Linked DNA regions of Homo sapiens. The protein of the gene in region 2 purifies or fractionates together with the protein of the main gene of each other region. This does not show direct contact. Each region holds a gene or a part of one and is shown on either strand. Other genes may lie near its edges.

Region 1 (3,600 bases), on a different chromosome or scaffold from region 2:
TGCCCAGCCTCTGATGGATTGATTTACAGCAGCCAAACACATGAAAACAAAAGCAAACCCTCACCTTTATAGAGAGTTTCATAATTTATAATTAGGAAGGAGTGGGTATACTTGCCATGAAGACCACTGCCAATATATCCCTGTGCTGATATGGGATGGGGTTCCTCTTGATCAGCACCAAAGATTGCATGCTGAACATATGGAAAGGAAATTGGACGAAAGAAGGGTCAATGACCGCTGTTTTCAGATGTGGCATGGAAGAGACTGATACTGGGGAGGAAGCGGCAGGGTCTCACTCCTTAGCCATGTGTATTTAAGAAGAATGAACTGTGAAGAAGTTGATGATGATCTAAAAACAGAGCCCCAAAATAGTACATAGAAAGTTAATTACAACATTGGTTATTTGAGAGTGTTGGGGACGTGGGTGGTTTTTATACTACTCTGTCTTTGAATTTAAAATAGTTTTCAAAATAAAATTTGAAGATTAAAGAATTAACCAGATTTTCTTTTGTCTATATGAGATGCATGCAGTCGTTTTTAGAGATGAGTTCCATCCCCACTTTGAATCTGAAGTATTAGAAGAGGCATGCTCTGGTGGACAGTGGGGAGTTAGCAGATGGAAGGGGATTTAGGGAAGGGACTGGACATTCTTCCTGCAAGATGGAGCAGTAAGAGAATGATGAGAGCTTTTAGATTCATGAAAAAGGTGACTCTAGGAGGCTTAGAATGTTCCAAAGGGGCACTTCAGCTAATAGTCATATTCAGAAGAGTGTTGTCTGGTTTACACAAACTGAAACTTAGGGCTTTGAATCAAGAGTCTCAGCTTCTACTTACAAGATAAGCAGTTTTGGGGAAGTCAGCCACTGAACCTGTTTCTTCATTTGCAAAATGAGGATAATAAAAATACCTATCTCAGGGTGGTTGTGAGATCAGTTGTATAATGTATGGGAAAATGCTTTAAATTTTAATTTTAATTTTAATTTCCAACCACTATATAAAAGTTGCCATGATTGAAATAAACAAAAAATTGATAAGCAAAATAAAACTTACCTGTTTAAACATTTATTCATTCAAAAACTCATCAAGTATCAACTAAATGTCAGACATTCAGTAATGACTGAGATACTGCCCTGATGTCAAGGAGCTTGCAGTAAAGCAGGGGAGCCAAATAATTGCAATATCTGCCTTAAGTGTGGTAACAGAGCATCACAGTTGGGATGATGCATTATTGGTACCATATTGTTGTATGTATAGGCTGTTTTGGCAGCACAGAAGAGGCATCTGCCTCACCCTAAGATCAGAAAAAACTTCCCAAAGAGGCCAGGCACAATGTCTCTCACCTGTAATCCCAGCACCTTGGGAGGCCTAGGCAGGCGGATTGTTTGATCTCAGGAGTTTGAGACCAGCCTGGCCAACATGGCGAAACCCTGTCTCTACAAACAATACAAAAGTTAGCTGGGCGTGGTGCCGCATGCCTGTAGTCCCAGCTATTCGAGAGACTGAGGTGGGAGGAACGCTTGAGCCTGGAAGGGCGGAGGTTGCAGTGAGCCGAAATTGCCCCATTGCACTCCAGCCTGGATGACAGAGCCAGACCCTGTCTCAAAAAAAAGAAAAGAAAAAAGAAGTCCCAAACAGAGTGAGCTAGACATTGAAAAGGTTCTAAGCAAAGGAACAGCATGTGTGAAATGGCAAGGCTTTTGGTGTGTTAGGTTATTTGGGATCGGGGGAATCTTAAAGCTTAAAAATGGAGTTAAGTTTCTTAGAATGAACATGCATTTTATGATTTTTTAAAATTGGTTTCATTTTGTTGAATTTCAATTATATGATTGTGATGTTTTCAGGATTTTGGTTTGAATTAAACAAAACTGGAGCCACAAAATTGGAAACAATACAATTTTTTTTAAAATGTGTAGGATCTGGCCGGGTGTGTGGTGGCTCACGCTTGTAATCCCAGCACTTTGGGAGGCCAAGGCAGGCGGATCACGAGGTCAGGAGATTGAGACCATCCTGGCTAACATGGTGAAACCCCGTCTCTACTAAAAATACAAAAAAAAAAAATTGGCCGGGCGTGGTGGTGGGCGCCTGTAGTCCCAGCTACTCTGGAGGCTGAGGCAGGAGAATGGCGTGAACCTGGGAGGCGGAGCTTGCAGTGAGCCGAGATTGTGCCACTGCACTCCAGCCTGGGTGACAGAGCGAGACTCCGTCTCAATTAAAAAAAAAAAAAAAAGTGTAGGATCTGCTCAAAGAAGGAAACTGGGTAATCCCTCCCATCATCATAGAGCTGTCTCACCAGTTATTCATTCAGTAACACTTACTGAATACTTAATATTCCAGAGAAATGAAAAAGCCAAAGTCCTCGCCTTAAAGTTGCTCACAATCTCATGGGGGAGACCAACACATAATTATAACCAATTCTTATTTAGCACTTACTCCATGAGAGATATACTTAACAATAATTCTTCAGAGGTAGAAAGGATTACCATCCCTTCTTAGAGAATTGAAGCACAAATTGACTAAGCAACCTTCTCAAGGTCACACACTTAATAAGTGGCAGAGCCAGAATTTAAACCCAGGCAGTCTGGTTAGTTTGTGCTTTAACACCTACTTTATGTAGCTGTTCTGATTATTAAAATACAGTGTAAAAAGTGCAAAATAAAGAGGTAATACACAATGAGATCAAAACCTAAAATAGTGGGAGAGGAAGGTGTTACAGAGGCTTTCTGCAGGAGGTGATAAACTGATTTTTAAATGATATCTGGGAGGTTCAGACCCAAAGAACCAATCGGCATGAGTAAAACTGCAGGGGAAGTAAGAAATTTATGAAGTATACTGGATGTGTGTGGAGGAGGGTGAAGGTGGTGATGAGCAGTTTTATGTTGCTTGAACATGAAGTTTGAAGCAGGCAGTAACTAAACATGTAAGACTAGATGGGTGGGCATGGAGGGCTTTGTATGCCTCAATAATGATTTTATACTTTAGTCTGAAGATATGTGAGGGGAACCATGGTAGAATAGTGTGATATGATTTTTCTTCTTCATGAATCATCTTCAAAACAGCATTGCTCTGGGAAGAAAAAGATTACCTGAGAGTGAAGGATTTGAGAGACTGGTTGAGCCTATTTTAATAACTCAGGAGTGATAACAGAGGCCTTGCAAGAGCAGGAAAGGTAGGGATGGAGTAGATGGGCAGATTTGAGAAATATTTAATGGGAAAATTGGCAACACTTAATGGTTGATTATGAGGGAGAAGTTATAGGTAGCTCCCAAGTAGTCTAGGTGATTGGTACATAGTGGTGGCAGCTGAGACAAAATACAGGGAGGGGCATTTTTAAGTGGGTTCCAGACAAAATCTGAGTCCACAGAATTAGTACTTTGAAATAGAAGTCCTACAAAACGAACCCTAAGAATATGAATGCCATGTGCAATAAGGGATTTCCTGGTGAAGCGTTTTTAGCTGAGAAAAGCCTACTGTTTACACAGTGCCCTCTGGTGGTCAGAAGATGCTGTGCTGTCTCGTTAGGATGAATGGATTAAAATGTACTTTTCCTCCTCTGCTTCTGGAGAGGGAGAGAGGAATATTCCAGAAGCCACTGTGTTCCTT
Region 2 (3,019 bases):
AAGGGTTGGGGCTCTCATCACTGTTGGCAGGGTTCCCAGCACAAGGGAAGAGAGAAGAGGTCTCCCTAAGACCTGCAGGTCCGCTAAGTAGTGCTAGGAGGGGTCCCCTAACCAGAGAAAGACAGCAGTCCCATCCGGTGGTACTAGTGGGTTCTCTGGTCACAGCATGGACTACAGAGCATATCCTGTTCCTCAGGCTGCCCTCCAGAGAGCCCAGCGGGCTCCTTTGATGGACCAACTCAGGGGAGTACTGGCTATACTGAGAGTAGCCTGGCATTTGGGTGCTAGGGCTGAACTCACACACATACCCATCAGTCTTCTCAAATTACACCTAAAACCCGCCACCTCTTTTATGTCAAACATATCATTTGCACTCTCATTTTTTAAAAATCTCTTTTATAATTCATGGCCTACAGGCTTCAGCTAACTTTGGGTCAGTCAGGTGACCACAGAGAACTGGCCTCATTGTACAGCAGCTTTTGTTTGGAGGGCCTAGGTTCCACAAAGGAGATTTTCTTAGGAGCCTCTGCAAACCAAGACCCCATGAAACATGCCCATAAAATATGCTCCAGGCTTTGACAGATCTGCAACCATAAAAATCAAGAAAGGAATTATAAACTGAAGCAAGACAGATGGGAATTCTTTTTATGATGTTTAATGACACAGATCTTCCCAAAGTAATCCAAACCCCAAAACATCACAAAATTATTCATACTATTATACACTCCAAAAGCAAAATACTTCAACTGCAATCCTTGCCCCAGCATGATTCCTCAAAATTGAGATAACTCCTTGAGAAACAAAAGTAAAAATAATAATAATTTAAGGAATAGAGTTAATAGATGCAAAAGTAAAGGGAAAAAAAGCGTAATTTAGTGTGAAAACCAAAAATGACTTTAAATAAGAATGGGCATTTAAGATCTTATTAAAGAGTTATGCTTAAACCATTTCAAAAAACACTGAATATTGAATGTCATGGTGTATATTTTAACAATAACTGAAATGGGATACCAATTCATTAGTGCTGCTTTCCTTTAGCTGCTTACGTAAGCAGCCCTCTCCTGAGACTTATAGCGTAACCTTAATGTAACACAATATTTTCTTACTTTTGATGACTACTTAGAGGTAACATCAAAACAACAAATTGACAACCATAGTTTCAGAGAGACTGAGAACATATTAGCATATGTAATTTAAGCTTGCTGTTGGCCTTGCCAAGGTGGAATGCTGGTTGTGATACAGGTTGAGTCTCCCTTATCTTCAGTGCTTGGGACTGACCAGAAGTATTTTAAACTTGGGTTTTGGTTTTTGTTTTTGTATTTTGGAATATTTACATAAACACAATGAAGTATCTTCAGGATAGGGGATAGGACCCAAGTCTAAACACGAAATTCATTTACGTTTTATATACACTTTATACAGGTAGCCTGAAGGTAATTTTATACATGATTTTAAATAATTTGGAGCATGAAACAAAGTTTCGAATGCATTTGACTGCACCCTGCCACATGCAGTCAGATGTGGAATTTTTCACTTATGGTGTTATATTGGTGCTCAAAAAGTTTTGGATTTTGGAGCATTTCAGATTTCAGATTTTTAGATTGGGAGGTTCAACTTGGATATACCTTTATTTGGCTGAAATTCTAAGAAGAGGATAAATGAATTTTGTTTTGTTGTTTTTGTTTTTGGAGTTCCTTTTCTGTTTTAATTTTTAATTTCATTTTCTTAATTTACCTAATGAACCAATCCCTATGATTACAGTGAGAAAAGAAAACTTGGCTCTCACTGAATCTTCTAAAAACTGAACAAGTTTTAGGGTAGTGTCTTACTCTATTCAGGCTGCTATAACAAAATGTCATAAACTGGGTAGCTTACAAACTACAGGAATTCATTTCTCACAGTTCTGGAAGCTGGGAAGTCCAAGATCAGAATGTTGGCAGATGCAGAATCTGGTGAGGGCCCTCTTCCTGGGTCAGAGATGGCGCCTTCTCGCTGTCTCCTCGCCAGTGGAAGGGGCAAACGAGCTCCCTTGAGCCTATTTATAGGGCACTAATCTCATTTATGAGGGGTCCACCCTCACAACCTCATCACCTCCCAAAAGGCCCCATTTCCTTAGAGGTTAGGATTTCAACATACAAATGTTGAGGGGACACAAACATTCACACTATAGTAGGGCTGGTAGAGGAAAATGCTATGCTTACACTATGAAGGAGGGAAATAAGTTTCCATTTTCAGGCCCCTCTTCTCTGGGTCTGTATCAATGAAGACAAATGTGCCTCTAGTCTCCCTTTATCCCAGCCCCTTCCTATTCCTGCTCCCTCACACTGTGTAAGCATTTCATAGATGCACCTTCCTAACTAACTTTAAAACCTGGCATTGGCAGTCCTATCTGTAGAACCTATTTACTTAATGTGTAGTTCTTTTGGAGAAATATTTGAGGAAGGTTTTGTTCCTCATCTAAATTTACAAAGAATTGCTGGAACGAAGGAGTAGGAAACAGAAGGAGCAGTTTAAACTACGCTCCAGAGGAGCCAGCCTCCTCTTACAAATTTATCACAGACATTCAACATCTAAAACAAGATCTGAACTACCCAGACGTAATGCTCTCTTTTCCAAGGTTTTTAGTGGACTTCACGTAAATCAAGCCTAACACTAAGAAATAAACAAACAACAACAAAAACGGATCTACCGAAAAGAGAAAGTCAGGTTGATAGTCTTTCCTGGAGGATTTATCAGGTTATTCCTGTGAATAGCAACTTCCTCTAGCTCATATATAATTAATTTGAGAGAGAGAGACAGAGAGAGCCAGAGAGAGCCAGAGAGAGAGAGAGGGGAAGTGTTCAGATAAGCACCTGCCACCCAACTACAGCGCTTTCTCTTTCATGTTCAAAACAAACATGCAAAAACACAAATTTTCCAGCTTGACAAGAAAATGTTAGCCCCCAAACAGCAAACACTTTAATCAACAACTCTTACCTGGGCACAAAAGACTGAGTACAGGGTTTGGTTTAAAGGGGAT

Evidence for each region. Proteins that work in one complex are often made in the same cells at the same time.
Region 1: the proteins of SPATA6L (region 2) and ZBTB1 purify together in Homo sapiens (affinity purification with mass spectrometry; 2 studies listed by BioGRID and IntAct, with this or other methods). This does not show direct contact.

What each region holds. Positions count from the first base shown.
Region 1 is NC_000014.9:64,507,770-64,511,369, forward strand, and holds part of ZBTB1 (zinc finger and BTB domain-containing protein 1), read left to right. Parts: intron 1-3,479; exon of another isoform or gene 3,480-3,600.
Region 2 is NC_000009.12:4,597,677-4,600,695, forward strand, and holds the end of SPATA6L (spermatogenesis associated 6-like protein), read right to left. Parts: 3' UTR 640-3,019; downstream 1-639.